2 separate regions of the Homo sapiens genome follow, and region 1 is linked to region 2. Evidence: fine-mapped expression QTL. Tissue or cell type: whole blood. Region 2 holds a variant in brackets; the other region holds the start of a gene. All regions are shown on one strand. Distances are from middle to middle.

Region 1 (8,104 bases), 21 kb after region 2:
CTTACAAAAAGCCGTCATGTAGAAATTCAGTCACTCCAATGGAAGACAGCAAACATTGCCTAAAACAAAAAAGTAAAACGGTATTGTTCAAATTCCACAAGACTAGATAAGCATGAAGGAAATTTAATTAAACTTTTTTTTTTTTTTTTTGAGAAAGGAGTCTCGCTTTGTCGCCCAGGCTGGAGTGCAGTGGTGCATTCTTGGCTCACTGCAAGCTCCGCCTCCCGGGTTCATGCCATTCTCTTGCCTCAGCCTCCCGAGTAGCTGGGATTACAGGCATCCGCCACCACGCCCAGCTTATTTTTTGTATTTTTTAGTAGAGATAGATGGGGTTTCACCGTGTTAGCCAGGATGGTCTCAATCTCCTGACCTCGTGATCCGCCTGCCTCGGCCTCCCAAAGTGCTGGGATTACAGGCGTGAGCCACCGCGCCCGGCCTTAATTAAATTTTAAATGATGTTTTGGCAAGTTTGGATCATTTATGCTTCTGAAATTATGAAAGCTTAAAACTGCATTAAGATTTTGAGGACACCCAGTCTGCCGGGCTCAGATGTGACAGATTTCAACATCTAGCCCTAAGTGTAAAAAGACAGCAGTTTTTTCATGGGGCTGGATCTAAATAGAGTCCTCTTTTCCTTCCCTGGCTCCCCAACTCCCTCTGCCCAATGTCCAGTCCCAGCGCAGCCAGAGAGATTCTACATGCTTTCCTTCTGGCCACATGCGCATGTTAAAAGAGAAAGGCAGGCAGAAGGCAGTGTTCTTGGACTGGTTGAGAGCATACTTCGGTTCTTGCTCAGTCACTTTAACTCAATTCGGCAGACATTTCCTGAATGCTGACACTATCCTATCCACCCAGATACACCTGGGGCCCTCACGCAGGTCCTCTGCGTGTGCTCCTGGCTGCGTCTTCGTCTGTCTGTATGGTCAGTTTACTGAGCTCTCATCACATGCCATACCCATGAAAAAGATGACGGGGTCTGCACCATAGAACACATGATCATTAGCTCTCTACAAAGCCGTGTCCCATTTATGAACACAACTGCCCCCAATACCACTAAGACTGCTATGATCATACTACCTCCATCTGGAGAGAAAACCTAAGGCTCAGGAGGGTAAGTGAACTGCCCGAAGTCACAGTAAGTGGCAGAGGTGGCCTGAAAGACCAGGCAGCAAGCCCAGGCTCCCACCCTGCCTCCATCTTGACCTGCCATGTCCTAGCCGTTTGCTTGGTGGTTACTCAGCACCTGGGACCTTGAGGTCCTCATCCAAAGAGAAAAAAAATTAAGGTCTCTATAAGATGACTTTCCATGTATAAATATTAGAACCCTAAGTCTTAATTATAAAACCTCTGTGCAGTGGGCAAGGAGACCACCCATGTCACAGGAGAGGCTGTCAGGGTCTGGACAGCAAAGCTAGCTGAGGGGCAGCAGCCAGTGGTCACTAAGGGGCTGGGAACTTGTTAGTCTTCTCTTAACAAGATGGTTGCCAGCTTTTGTTGGACAGGGCCCTGACTCAGGTGTAGAGGATCTGAGCTGGAGCCTACATCTGCTAATGTCAAAAAAGTCATTAAAAACTAAATGACCTCAAAGCACCTTAACTTCCCAGAATCTGTTTATCTGTAAAATGGATCTAATACCTAACTCAAAGCATTGGGTGGAAAGTTAAATAAGACACCAGATATGAAAGCTTCATCCCTGCCCAATTGTAGAAAGGTTTCTCTGTGACCTACTAATTTGCACATCAATGCTATTATACCCAGCCCCCTCCTAAACCCATGCTCCTTTAAATATGACCATCAACCCACCCATTTATGTTCATAAATTCACTCCAACCTTCTCTGGCTCCTCACCCCATGGCTGCCTACTTTACCAAGTTCCCTGATAACATGCCCTTAGGTTTGGTTCTGAGATTGGAATGATTTTTTTTAAATCTTCTTCCCTCTATATTTTTGTATTACTTATTCAATTTTTTTTCTTTTTTTTTTTTTTTTTGAGACGGAGTCTCATTCTGTTGCCCAGGCTGGAGTACAATGGCGCAATCTCGGCTCACTGCAGCCTTTGCCTCCCAGGTTCAAGTGATTCTCCGGCCTCAGCCTCCCCAGTAGCTGGGATTACAGGCACATGCCACCATGCCCGGCTAATTTTTGTATTTTTAGTAGAGACGGAGTTTCACCATGTTGGCCAGGCTGGTTGTGAACTCTTGACCTCAGGTGATCCACCCTCCTCGGCCTCCCAAAGTGCTCGGATGACAGGCACGGGCCACTGCGCTTGGCCTTGACTATTCTTAAAATATTCTTGCATGCACATGCAGACACTGACCTACACATCATTACCACCACTACCACTCAAACAGCCCACCTGAGGGGCCTAGCTGGCAACCCCAGGATATCCCCCACTGAACACTGTGACCCTGAGCATGCCACTGCCTCTATAAACTTCAAGTTATCTCATCTGTGAAACAAGAAGTCAGGCCAACTTGACAAGACTCAAGCCCCTTCCACGGGTAGCATTCTGAGAAACCATGGGTATGGTGCAAGAGAAGGACAGACAAACATACTCTGTCCACCATCCTGCCTAAACCTTTGTGTATGAGGCTGACAAGGGTTACAATGGGTGACATTCACAAGGAGAGAATCTCTCCCTTGTTCCTTGCAAAAGCCCTGGGAAGTAGGTGCACCTATCTCCACTAAACAGATGAGCAAACTGAGGCACAGAAGCCATTTCTCTCTGCCTCCTACCCCACCCACGGCATCACCAGCACTGTTTTAAACACCATCCCTTCACTCGAGTAACTACCATGTGTCAGGCACTATGCTAGACCCTGGGAGCCTCGGGCACAGTGTGAGTAAGTCCCAAGTGGGCCCTCTCTGCTAGAAATCAGGGTTGCAAATACAGACCCCACCTCATCCTCCTCCCTCTCTCCTCAGAGGTAGGTGCTTCAGAGAATCCTAACATTCATGGAGCACCCAAGCCCTCTCATAGGAGGTTAACACATTTCTACTCATGTAATCCTCATCACAGTTCTCCGAGTTAGATTCTATATGTTATGACAGATGAGGAAAGTGAGGCGCAAAGAGGTTAAAAAACTTACACCAGGTCATCCCACATCCAGGTAGTGGCAACCCAGATTCACACGCAGTAGTTATTCTGATCCTAAGTATGTGCTCTGGACCGCTACATCCTAAGGCCTCCTCTTTAGGGACTGATCTCCCAAGGCTCAGAGAAGAGCCCTGTCTCCAACATGCAGCAAGCCTGAAGCCCAGTCGGGCGGTGACCAATCGTCCTGGTTTGGCCAGGCCCGAGGGAGTTCCCAGGACGCCGGACCTTAAGTTTTAAAACTAAAACGAGTTGGTCACCCTAAGTCCAGGACTCCTGCCACTTCCCCAGAGCAGGAGTGAGATCTGAATGGAACTCCTTCCTCCATGCGTAACCCAGAGGGGCTGACGGTGGAAATCCCGTCCCTCCCCTACTCACTCTCTGAGCCCCAGCCTCCCAGGTCGGACCTCTGGGCCACCACCCCTCACCTCTCAGCCAGCGCCCGCCAACGGTTTCAACCGGCCGCGGGGAGCACGTGGACTCGCCGCCGCCAGCCCAGCGCCGCAGCTACCTGCCTCTCAGGCTTCGCGGTGCAGAATTCGCTTCTGAACCACCCAGCGCGCCTGCGCACCGCGGCCACGCCCCCCCCAGTGGAAGTGACGCCAACGGAAGCAGGAAGGCGGTTCCGGCAAGCCAAGGGGGCGTTGTCGTGATGATTCCGCGGCCAGCGGATCGCTGCGAGTGGCCTTGAAGGCAGCTGCTGCAGGTGAAGAGTAGGCGGCGGGGCAGAGAGCGGCCTCCGAGGGTAAGGTGGCCGGCCTTGCGAAGGCGTGCGGGGCTGGCGCTGGTGGGAATGGCCCGGAAGGGAAGGGAGGCCGGGCGCCCGAAGGTGGCCCAGAAGGGCATGGACCCACCGCTCCTTCCCGTCTCTGGGCACTCGAGGATACCCGGGGGGTTGGCGGCTCCTGCGAGAGTCAGCGAGCATTTGCTCTGTGCCGGGCATCACAGGGGACGCGGACTGAGACCCAGACGGCCAGGTTCCGGGCCTGGGAGCCGGGCCTTCTCCCTGGTGCAGCTTCCTCGGCCTGGAAACCCCACCCGCGCCCTCTCATCTCCAGGCTTTGCCCGCTGGAAGCCAGCCCGGCCCGCCTCCGCTACGCGCTGCCCATCTCTCGGCTTCTGTTTCCTTCCACGCTGTAGTTGAGAGTAGCGCTTAAGACGACAGAGCCCACAGCCTAGCTCAGTTTCATTACGGTGTGGCCTCTTTGTGCCTCAGCCCCGCATCTGTAAAGCGAATGTCATAGCGGCACCTGCGTCCCTGGAACCTTGTCGTATTTCATGAGTTGGTGCATGTAAATCGCTTAGACTAGTGGCTGCCACTTAGTAAGTACTCAATAAACGTTAGCTCTTCTCAGCCCTTAAAACAGGGTCTGGCACACAGTGGTGGTCACTAGGTGTTTGTTGCTTAAATGAATGAATGAAAGTTGAGTGGAGGATGCACAGAGTATTGTGAGAAACCTTCACTCCCAAGGTGTGTGTATATGGGTGATAAGGTTTCACTCTGAAAGTGAGCAGTGTTGGGCCTGGAATAGAAGGTGTATTAGTTTGCTAGGACTGCAAACAAAATACTGGGTGGCTTAAACAACAGAAATTTATTATTTTCTCACAGTTCTGGAGGTTAGAAGTCCAAGATCAAGGTGTCTTCAGGTTTGGTTTCTTCTGAGACATTTCTCCTTGGCTTGCACGTGGCTGCTTTCTTGCTGTGTCCTCGCATGGTCTTTCCTCTGTGTTTTCACATCTCTGGCGTCTCTCTTTGCATCCAGATTTCCTCTTTATGAGAACGTCAGTCAGGTTGTATTAGGGCCCACCTTAATGGCCTCATTTTAACTTAATTACCTTCTTACAAGCCTGATCTCCAAATACAATCACATTCTGGAGTGCTGGGGGAACAGTTTAACCATAACAGAAGGAATTCACAGAAATGGACAAGGAGGGAAATACTTTCCAACAGAAGTGACAGAATGGCCAGGAGGCTTAAAAGCAGGGTGCTCAAGATGTTTTTTGTGTTCAGGGCACATATGTGTACTTCAGTCTTGTTTGTGCTCTCGTACTGTTTTTGGGTTTGGTTGTTGTTGTTTGTTTGTTTGTCCTCCTGAATACTCAAAGAAAGTGAGCCCTCTCATTTTTTTAGTCTGGCAAACTTAACTCACATTTCAGCATAGATGTGTCTTCCAGGAAGTTTTCCCTGACCCTCCCTCCCAAATTAATTTCTGCTTCCTCCATTTAATAACTTTGGTACAGGGCTGGGTGCGGTGGCTCACGCCTGTAATCCCAGCGCTTTGGGAGGCCGAGGCAGGCAGCTCCTGAGGTCAAGAGATAGAGACCAGCCTGGCCAACATGGTGAAACCCTGTAAACCCCATCTCTACTAAGAGTACCAAAATTAGGCGGGTGTGGTGGCGCATGCCTGTAATCCCAGCACTTTGGGAGGCTGAGGCGAGTGGATCATTTGAGGTCAGGAGTTTGACACCAGCCTGGCCAACATGGTGAGACCCCCACCCCTCGTCCTTACTAAAAATACAAAAATTAGCTGGGTGTGGTGGTGCATGCCTGTAATCCCAGCTACTCGGGAGGCTGAGGCAGAAGAATCGCTTGAACCCAGGAGGTGGAGGTTGCACTGAGCCGAAAGCACACCACTCCACTCCAGCCTGGTCAACTGAGCAAGACTGCGTCTCGGAAAAAAATAAAAAATAACTCTGGTACAGTGCAACGATACTTGTTTTTCCCACTAGACTGATGCTTCATGAAGACATGGATGACCGTATCTGATGTGTTTGCCATCGTACCTTCAGTGCCTAGCGCATAATGGGCATTGTGTAAAGTTAAGTGAATGATGGAAAACTGAGACACAGAGCCTGTGAAGAGTAGGGAACACATCTGTTCCGTTTGTCAGCATTCCATCCTCGCGACAATCTGTTGCACATGTTAGGCACACAGTATCTGTTTAACCCAATTGGCCTTCCCAGTATGATAAGAGTCAGCATAAAGCTAAGACAAGATTCCAGGTTTGTTGCTTCAAGCCAGTGCTTTTATGAGTAGGGTGGAGGTGAGGAGCTACAAGTAAGCCATTTGGAAAGTATGATGATGGGCAGACTCCTTAGGAGCCCTCTGAGGTAAGCTTGACTTTAAGGTGCGTGAACTGTGGGCCCTTGGAGAAGTAATCTATTAATGGCACTGCTGAAAAAACATCCACAAATTCTATCCAGTAGTATTTGACCTGTTGGTAGAATTGAGGGGCCTTTGCTCTAGGAGTCCTCTCTGCAGGTTGAAATTCCATTCTGGCTGTTGTTTTCTTTAGAAGCATTTCTTCATTCACATTGATCTAAACTTTTTCTTGTTTCTTTTCCCCCCATATTTTCATTTTTTGACGCCATTCATACCATCTTTCCACCATCACATTCCTTGTATAGATTTGTAGCTTTTAGAACTAGGAAAAAACCTCTAAAAGAGATCATCTAGTCCAATAGGGGACCTCTCCATTTTTATAGATGAAAAACTGAGGCCCAGAGTCTCATCCATCCAGAAATATGTATTGAGTGCCTATTATGTCAAAGACACTCTGCTAGGCACCAGAGATACATTGTTCAATAAGACAGATGGAGTCCATGTCTTCACCACAGAAAATTTTTACTGCTTGTCACTAGGTGAGTTAGTCGCAAAGATGGAAGAGAACCTTCTGCTCCTTCTCTCACGCTATAACACCTTGTGTAGCACATCTTAGTCCTGAATTGTGCAGTTCCTTAATGCAAAGCTTGTCTGTGGGATTACCTGGACAATCAGGCATAGGCAGTAGACTGAAGAGGCAGCTGATTCCGATCAAAGGAAACAGTGGTTATGAATGCGGCTTTGGTGTCAGATTCCCTGGCTCTGAATCCCACCTCTGTCCCTTATTACTTACCTATTTTTAGCTGTGTGACCATCTTCTCTGTATATGGTCAGGTTTTCTGTTGCTGTGTAACACTCTACCCCCAAATTTAGTGACTCAAAAACTATTTTATCTCATAATTCTGCAGGTTAGGTATTCAGGCAGGTGTCAGCTGAGAAATTCTTCAATTCTATGTGGTGTCAACTGGGATCACTCAGTGGCATTCAGTTGGAGGAGGGGCCAGCCTGGAGAGGTCAGGATGGCTTTCCTGGGAGCCAGCTGAACCCTTCTCTGTCTCCATGTGTTCTCTCTAGCTGGGCATCTTACAGGTGGCTCAGGCCTTCCATAGCCACTGTTCTGAAAGATGGGAAGTGGAAGCTGTTAGCTCTTTAAAGGCCTGGGCCTGGGAAATGAGCACAGCTTTGTAGCACAGAATCTGATTAAGGCAGAGCCTGTGCAGGAGGGAAGGAGACCTAGACTCCACTACCCCATGGGAGAATCATCGGAGAATTTGTGGCCATCTTAAATCTGACAAATTCCTCATTGTCCTCACCTGTAAAATGTGGATAATAGTAGCACCTATCTTATGGTAAATGAGTTAATAAGTGTAAAGGGCTTAGAATAGTGCCTGGCATCTAGGAAACATAAGTATTTGTCATAATCATTACTATTATTAGGTATAAGATACATTTTTGTTTATAATTGACAGAACACATAAGAAATGTAAGATACAATTTTTTTTCCAGACCTTTTTATAACCTCATTGGGGTTTCCAGACCTTTTAATAACCTTATTGGGGTTTCCAGACCTTTTTATAACCTTACTGGGGAGGTACAGGATTGACATCATGAAGTAATTTAGAGAACTATACAAAATGATATGGAATAATAATAATTATTATTTTGAGATGGAGTCTCGTTCTGTTGCCCAGGCTGGAGTGCAGTGGTGCAATCTCGGCTCACTGGAACCTCGGCCTTCTGGGTTCAAGCGATTCTCCTGCCTCAGCCTCCAGAGTAGCTGGTATTATAGGCATGCGTCACCACGCCTGGCTAATTTTTGTATTTTTAGTGGAGATGGTTTCTTCGTGTTGGCTAGACTGGTCTCGAACTCGTAGCCTTAGGTGATCCGCCTGCCTCGGCCTCCCAAA
Region 2 (8,104 bases):
ATGGCTTGGCTGTGTCCCCACCCAAATCTCATCTTAAATTGTAGCTCCCACAATTCCCATGTGTTGTGGGAGGTACCCGGTGGGAGGTAATTGAATCATGGGTACGGGTCTTTCCTGTGCTGTTCTTGTAATAGTGAATAGGTCTCACGAGACCTGATGGTTTCATAAAGAGTTTTCCTGCACAAATTCTCTCTCGTCTCTCGTCTGCCGCCATGGAAGACATGCCTTTTGCCTTCCGCCATGATTGTGAGGCCTCCCCAGCCACGTGGAACTGTGAGTCCATTAAACTTCTTCTTCTTTATAAATTACCCCATCTCAGGTATATCTTTATCAGCAGAGTGAAAACAAACTAATACAATCACAAACTGAAATTCCATGGCGCTTGTAGAACATCATGTGACTCTCACGGGGTGGCCCTGCATCTCCCCTGTGCCCGGGTGATAACTGCAGAGCACACCTCCCTCTGCTCCCTGGAGTGCTGGCATAGGAAGACTTCGGGACTGGACTGCGGAGTCACAGCTCTGTTCTGCTTTTGTCCCTAATTAGGTATGTGGTCTGGGTTGTTTCACTTTCTCAGTTTTCTTTTGCTTTCCAGAATGTCTAAAGCTTCTCATGGCCCAAAAATTGTTACTGGTAACGGTAAGAGTAGTGACAGCACCCACTGAGGGGATCTATTGTGTCTAATAAGGGAACATGCTGTGTCCTTTACGTGAATTAGTTCATTCACTCACAACCTTTACTATCCCCATTGTCCAGCTGAGAAAAGTGAGGTTCAGAGGTTAGCCAATAAGGGACAGAGTCAGGACCTGACTCTGGGCCTGATTCTGAAGCCTGAGTCCTACTCATTCTGACAGTGCCACTCAATGCCGTCACTACACTTATATGTGGCACATCGCCTAATAAGCACTGAACTCAAGATGCTGCTTGGCTTGGCTGGCAAGTCCCAGAGTGAAGCTGCTCCGTGGGCTTCTGGGCACTCAGAGGCTCAGACAGGGCCTCTGTCCTCCCTCTCATCCCTCCTCTCCGTCCTAACCCTTTAAACTACTTGTTCCATGTCCCAGACTTGCTTTTGTGGGGAATTGATGAGATATTAATGAAACTGGCTAAGGGGTGATCTGTACCAGAGGACCAGCTTTTAAGGGTCTTGTGGGCAAAACCTACTGAACCATCCAAGAGGTGGCAAAAAGGCTGTCCTACAGCACAATCAACCAGGACTTCAAACACTGTTTCTGAAAGCATTCAGTCCAATCAGAGCACTGGAGCAGCCACACAGCTGCACAAGAGATTCAGTCTCCAATGAGCTATTTCCCTGTGCCTCTCGCTTCCAGTCACAGGCCATGCTCCTGAATCCAGCCACTGACAAACTCGTCTCTTTGGCTGAAGGTAGATGGGGCCAGTGTGGATGGGTGAACCTGTTACAGAGAAGCCTCCTCTATAGCACCATACTTCTGGCTACAGAAGGATTAACACATACAAGACTCTTGTCATGACCATTCCCGCAGTTCACATACACATTCCAACAACACAAAAAACAAACGCACAAAACATCTCTAATCAAAAATGTGTAGAAATAGCTGGGCACAGTGGCTCATGCCTGTAATCCCAGAACTTTGGGTGGCCGAGGCAGGCGGATCACTTGAGGTCAGTTTGGGACTAGCCTGGCCAACATGGTGAAACCCTGGCTCTACTAAAAATATAAAAATTAGCCAGGTGTGGTGGCGGATGCCTGTAATCCCAGCTACTCAGGAGGCTGAGGCAGAATTGCTTGAACCTGGGAGATGGAGGTTGCAGTGAGCTGAGATTGTGCCACTGCACTCCAGGCTGGGCGACAGAGACCCTTTCTCAAACAACAATAACAACAAAGTGTAGAAATGATGTGGTTAAAATGAATACTTTTTAGTCTGATCAAAAGAGGAATTACTTTTTTACTTGTTGCTGCACTACATTGAAAAAAATTTTTTCACACAAAACTATTTTGTAAAGTTCAGTAATTTTTGCCACAACAAATTTAGAAGTTTGGACCAGAATATATTTTATTTTTCTCATAAAAGTTATACCAAAAATATATTTTCTTAACTTAAAAATACAGCTTCAAAAAGCAAAATTTGAGTTGTTAGAATTCATTACACATTTTATAAACAGCAGTGAAAGGAAGAAGTCAGCAGAATGGATTCAATTTTTAAATACACAAATGTTCATTTCACAAGCTTGACTTTGTCCTTTAATAACTTAAAGGTAGGGTTCTTGCTGATTTTCTTGTTAAAGATGACCAGGAGTTCCTCTTCGGATCTGTGATGCTCATCTGTCACTGTGTAGTACTGAGCTAAAACCTTCACAAAGAAAAACATCAAATGAGTGTATTTGACCTGGAAAATTATCTTAAAATGTTCTGTCTTTAACCCAGAAATAGAACAACAGGAAAAAATAAAAGAAACCCAGGAGCAAGCGACACCGGCGTGCTCTCCTTGGAAAACCCAGGCGGCAGCCACGTGCAGGGGTTTGGCCATGTGTGAGTCATCCTGAGAAACAAAGTGAAATAAAGGAGAAGAAACCACTGCTCTGGGATAGGCAAAAGAGAGCAAATATCTAGAAAATAATTTCCAAACAATAAAAATTAAATAAATGGAGCCTCTCTTCAAAGTCTTATAAACAAGCCCAAAATCTAGGCACCACCCTGGCTGAGGCTGTGTGGGGCTTTGGAGCAGCTTGAAAATCACTGAGACACACACACAGATTTTCAGTGTTTTAGGTGAAAAAAGAAAAAAACAAACAATTGTACATTTAGAAATAAGTTCTCCCCAGCTGTTAGACACGTGGGTTTGTTCATATGCCATACCTTTTTCCTTAGCTTTTTGATGGTTATTTCATTGTCTGGGGCCTGTTTCAGAATTGCTTTAATAGTTCCCTTCCAGTTGAATTTACCTACAATATAAATAATAATATTTAAGACATTTCGTTTTGTTGTACTACGAGAAGGGTAAAGAAACAACTTCTGCAACACCTATTTGCTTCCCAGGAAATGAGCTAACCCTCTAATGAACCAGACTCCATAGCACCAAGCATCTGTTCAATTCCAATGTCCTAGAAGCACTCACTACCCTTCAAAGGACTGGCTCTTAAGAGTGAGCAGGTGCCCATGTGCTATTGGCATGACAAACTCCTAGATAGAGTTGTATGTAATGAACTCAACACAGATTTCCTAAGCATCCACTAAGATCATGGGGCTGTCCATGCACAGTAGGGAGGACAAAGATGAGCAAAACAGCTTGACCTGAAATGAGAGAGAGGACAACCACAAACTATTATAGAGGAACTAAAAATACTCATCTAGGGAACTTCTGCTTCTGGGAAGATGGAGTGGACACACTTTCCCCTTCCTCCTGCCCACTACAACTGAGAACCCTGAAACTATATAGGCAAGAAATGTAAGAAGACTCTGAAAGGTAGAGACCAGCTGGGACCTCGGGGCCTGCAGAGCAACACGGGGTGAGCTTCTTGCTGCCTGTACCCCAGATCTGGAGTTGAAGAACCCAGCAACCTGAACACCAACAGCACAGACAAAACAGTCCCAACAGAAGCCTGCTCTCTTGGCAAAGGACCGGGAAACGGCAGCCTAGCAAGACAGAAAACTTTTGTATAATAACAACCCTACTGCAGCCACACATCACAGAAAAAACGGTGGCTCCACCCCCACCCGCACCAGCAAAAGCCGAGTGGCGAGCCTGAGTTCTCTACCCTCGCAAGGCTGTAATGAGGGACGGTGTCACAGAAGGCCAAGCAGGAATTCAGGGGTCTCATCCACACAGGCCGGTCATGAGGCTGCCCCTGCTGTGATGTCAGTGGAACCTGCACCAGGAGCCCTGCCCGGCAGGAGCAAGAAGTGGCCATCCTCAGGTGTGGATGGAGGCTGAGTAGAGAGCCTGGACTTCCGCCCCCACCTGACAGCAACAAGGCCGTGCCCCTCCACAACCACCAAAGTCATGTGAGAGAAAGCCAGT[T/C]AAAACAGAAAGCGTAAACAGGATCTCACACCTTACAAAAACAACTAACTCAAAATGGATCATGGACTTCAATAAAAAATGTAAGACTAGGAGGCATTTAACATAGACCTGAAATTTGCTGTGAGGATATATCTTAAGTGTTCTCAACACACACACACGTAAACTATGTGAGGTGATAAATGTGTTAATCAGCTTGATTGTAGTCACTATTTCACAATGTACATGTATAATAAAACATTAAGTTGAGCTGGGCATGGTGGCTCATGCTTGTAATCCAGGCACTTTGGGAGGCTGAGGCAGAAGGATTGCTTGAGCCCAGGAGTTCAAGACAGGCCTGGGCAACACTGCAAGACCTCCGTCACAAAATTTTAAAACTTCGCTGGGTGTGGTGGTGTGTACTCGTAGTCCTAACTACCCAGGAAGATTGCTTGAGCTCAGGAAGTTGAGGCTGCAGTGAGTCATGATCACACCAATGCACTCCACCCTGGGCAACAGTGAGACCCTGTCTCGAAAAATAAAAATAAAATACAGTAACACATTAAATTGTACACCTGAACTACATAAAATGTTGATTTGTAAAAAAAAAAAAAAAAAAAGTTATCCATTAAGATAATTTAGAAAACAAAAAAATCTTTAGGCTCTAGGGCTAGGTAAAGAGTTGTTAGCACAATCCATAAGATAAATTGATAAATTGAACTTTATCAAAATAAAAACCATTTGCCCTAAAAAGACTCTGTTATGATGAAAAAACAAGCAAAAAGACTGAAAAAAAATTCACAAACTGTTATGTCCCACAAAGGAGTACTATTTAGAATAAATTTAAAAACTAAAATCTCAACAGTTAAAAAAAAAAAAAACCCACAAAAACAACAACCAAAAAAACCCCAAACAACTCAAATTAGAAAATAGGGGAAAAAAATTTAAAAAAAGAGAGCAGACATTTCAACAAAAACATATACAGATAGCAAATATGCACAGAAGAAGGTGCTCAACAACATTAGTCATTAGGGCCACACAAATTCAAACCACAATGAGCGGTTACCACACATCTATCAGAATGGCGAAAATACAACACAGTGGCAACGCCTAATATTGACCATGATGTGGAGAAACTAGATCCTTTACACACTGCTACTGGGAATATAAAATGTGTACAGAGACTCCTGAAACAGCTGACAGTTTTTTCCTTTTTAAATTTTTGTGGGTACACAGCAGGTGTATATGGGGCACGTGAGATATTTTGATACAGACATGCAATGTATGATACTTACATCAGAGTAAATGGGGTATCCATCACCTCAAGCATTTATCCTTTTGTGTTACAAACAATCCAATTATACTCTAGTTATTTTAAAATGTACAATTAAATTATTATTGACTACAGCCACCCTGTTGTGTTATGAAATACTAGATCTTATTCATTCTATTTTCTTGATACCCATTAACCATCCCCACCTCTCCCACAGCCTCCCACCACCCTTTCCAGTCTCTGGTAACCATCCTTTTACTCTCTATCTCCATGAGTTGGCAACTGTTTTGATTTTTAGATCCCACAAATAAGTGAAAACATGCTATGCTTGTCTTCCTGTGCTTGGCTTATTTCACTTAGCATAATGACTTCCAGTTCCATCCACGTTGCTGCAAACGACAGGATCTCATTCTTTTTATGGCTGAATAGTACTCCGCTGTGTACATGCACCACATTTTCTTTACCCATTCATCTGCTGCTGGACACATAGGTTGCTCCAATCTTGGTTATTGTAAATAGTGCTGCAACAAACACGGGAGTGCAGGTATCTCTTCAACACAGGGATTTCCTTTCTTCTGAATATATACCCAAACAGTGGGGCTGCTGGATTGGACGGGAGCTCTATTCTTAGGTTTCTGAGGAACCTCCAAGCGGTTCTCCATAGTGGTTGTACTAATTTACATTCCCACCAACAGTGCACCAGCGTTCCTTTTTCTCCACATCCTCGCCAGCATTAGTTATTGAGCTGGTGGTTTCTTAGAAAAGAAAGAATATGCAACTACTGTATGACACAGCATTGAACATTCGCTTCAGAAAAACTGACTTAGTTCACACAGAAACCTGCACATCAATGTTTACTGCAGCTTTATTCATTAATAACCAGAGACTAGAAACCACCCAGGTGTCCCTCCACAGGTGAATGATGAAAGGACTGTGATGCACGCACAGCACGGGATACTCCTCACCAATAAGATGAATATTGGTCAGTTCAGCAACCTGGGTGAATCTCCAGAGAAAAACGCTGAGCGAAGAGTCAGTCTCAAAAGGTTACATACTGTATGATTCCATTCATAGAACATTCGGAGATTCCAGAAATGAAGAACAGATTAGTGATTGCCAGAGGCTAAGGAGGGGGTGGGGGTGAGAGGGAAGTGGCTGTGGCTACAAGAGGGCAGCAGGAGGCAGCCTTGCGCAATGGCGATGGAAATGGAAGCGTATCCATGTCAACATCCCGGCTGAGATGCTGTACTACAGTTGTGTAAAGTGTTATCCTGGGTGGCAACAAGGTAAAGGGTACGCGGATACATAAGGACGCCTGAGTCTCCATTATTTCTTACAACTGCATGTGAGTCTACAAGGATCTCAAAACAAAAAATGTAACAACAACAACAAAAATAACCATTCCAGTTGTCCCCCTTGATCTGCAGGGGACAGTTCCCAGACCCCCAGTGGATGCCTGAAATCACAATGGTACTGAACCCCTATATATACTGTCTTTCCCTAAATATTCATTCATGCCTATGACAATGCTCCACTTATAAATGAGGCACAGTAAAAGATTATCAATAACTAATAATAAAATAGAACAATTTTACAATACACTATAATAAAAGTTATGTGAATGTGGTCTCTCTGTGTCTCTCTAAATATCTTATTGTCCTATCCTCACCCTTCTTGTGGTGAAGAAGGCATACAGCAGGACAGCAAGAGATCTCGCCATGCTGCTCAGAACAGCATGCAATGGAAAACTTATCAATTGTTTATTTCTGGAATTTTCCATCCCACAGATATGGGGACACTACTGTTTACTAAGTTGAGAAGGGGGTTTTAAGCTTAGAGATCTAACCCAATGCTGGCAGTCACTGAACTCTGCTAATAAAGCTGCAGGCCCATTTGAGTCTTTGGACCTGTTCTGAACTGCAGGATCCTGGGGGTTGGGGGAGGTGGCAGAGAGATGACGACTTGCCACCTCCCGACAGGTATGAGTGCTTCAGGCCTGAAGAAGCAGGAGAGAAGCTTTGTGTAAGAGACAGCATTTCAGAGGGCCCGTGAAGGCCAGGGACTGGATTCTGAGGTTGAGGATACAAGCAAGGAGACCCCAGAAACAGGCCCAGAGATGGGCAGGGGCACAGTTCAGGGGACTTCTAAGAGAACAGTGAAAGGCAGGGGCAAGAGAGTTGGGGAGGAGCGAAAGGGAACCGGGTCTCAGAAAGCTATATTGGGCTTATTTAAATTTCAAAGATAACATACATTTCCAAACCAGACTGCTTTACTTTTCTCCTTAAAGACAGTGGGTGAGAGGCACTGTAAGACTGACTCACACACCCTAGAGAACTGATTTTACTTTCAAATTCTTATATATACCTCTGGAGGGTAAGACCCTACTAGAAGTGCCCACATTACACCTTCCTTCCCCAGAAGGGGGCATCTCTCGGCCCCTCTCCCAACCTACAAGGGACCGTGTATTTCTCTCTTTTCTTTTCTCTCTCTCTCGCTTTTTGAAAGTGGTACGCCCATGGCTCACTACAGCCTCACACTCCTGAGCTCAAGTGACCCTCCTGCCCCTGCCTCTGAAGTAGCTGGGACTATCAGCGAGAGCCGCTGTGCCCAGCCGTGCTCCTCAAATGACAGCAGTGATATACCTTTTGCAGGAGCCTCATCGTCTTCTGGTTCTCCGCCCTCAGGATGCTCTGGGAGCTTCATCTTTTTCTTCTTAGAATCTGTTTCAACTAAGTATTTGGAAAGATTTTTTTTAAAGAAGATTTTGCATTTACGCTAGCAGCTACCATTTAATGAGACCTTATGCGAGCTAGGCAAACTCCACGTATCATCTCATTTCTTCTCCAAGCTGCCCAGC

Evidence for each region. PIP is the estimated chance that this variant, and not a neighbour inherited with it, causes the effect.
Region 1: it holds the start of LYAR, and the variant in region 2 is fine-mapped to the expression of LYAR in whole blood (INTERVAL, PIP above 0.99).

Annotation. Positions count from the first base shown.
Region 1 is chr4:4,286,514-4,294,617 of GRCh38, forward strand. LYAR (Ly1 antibody reactive) reads right to left here and starts at 3,641. Exons shown (of 10, transcript NM_017816.3): 1 at 3,523-3,641; 2 at 6-59. It overlaps ZBTB49 (zinc finger and BTB domain containing 49), which reads left to right and starts at 3,738. Exons shown (of 8, transcript NM_145291.4): 1 at 3,738-3,839. RefSeq lists enhancers at 1,590-2,128, 2,129-2,666.
Region 2 is chr4:4,265,694-4,273,797 of GRCh38, forward strand. LYAR (Ly1 antibody reactive) reads right to left here. Exons shown (of 10, transcript NM_017816.3): 8 at 7,890-7,976; 9 at 2,837-2,922; 10 at 2,008-2,330. The coding sequence ends at 2,196. Among named protein-coding and RNA genes, the nearest start is that of LYAR, 20 kb to the right of the region's middle. RefSeq lists a silencer at 3,708-3,885. The variant T/C (reference allele first, on the strand shown) is at 3,999.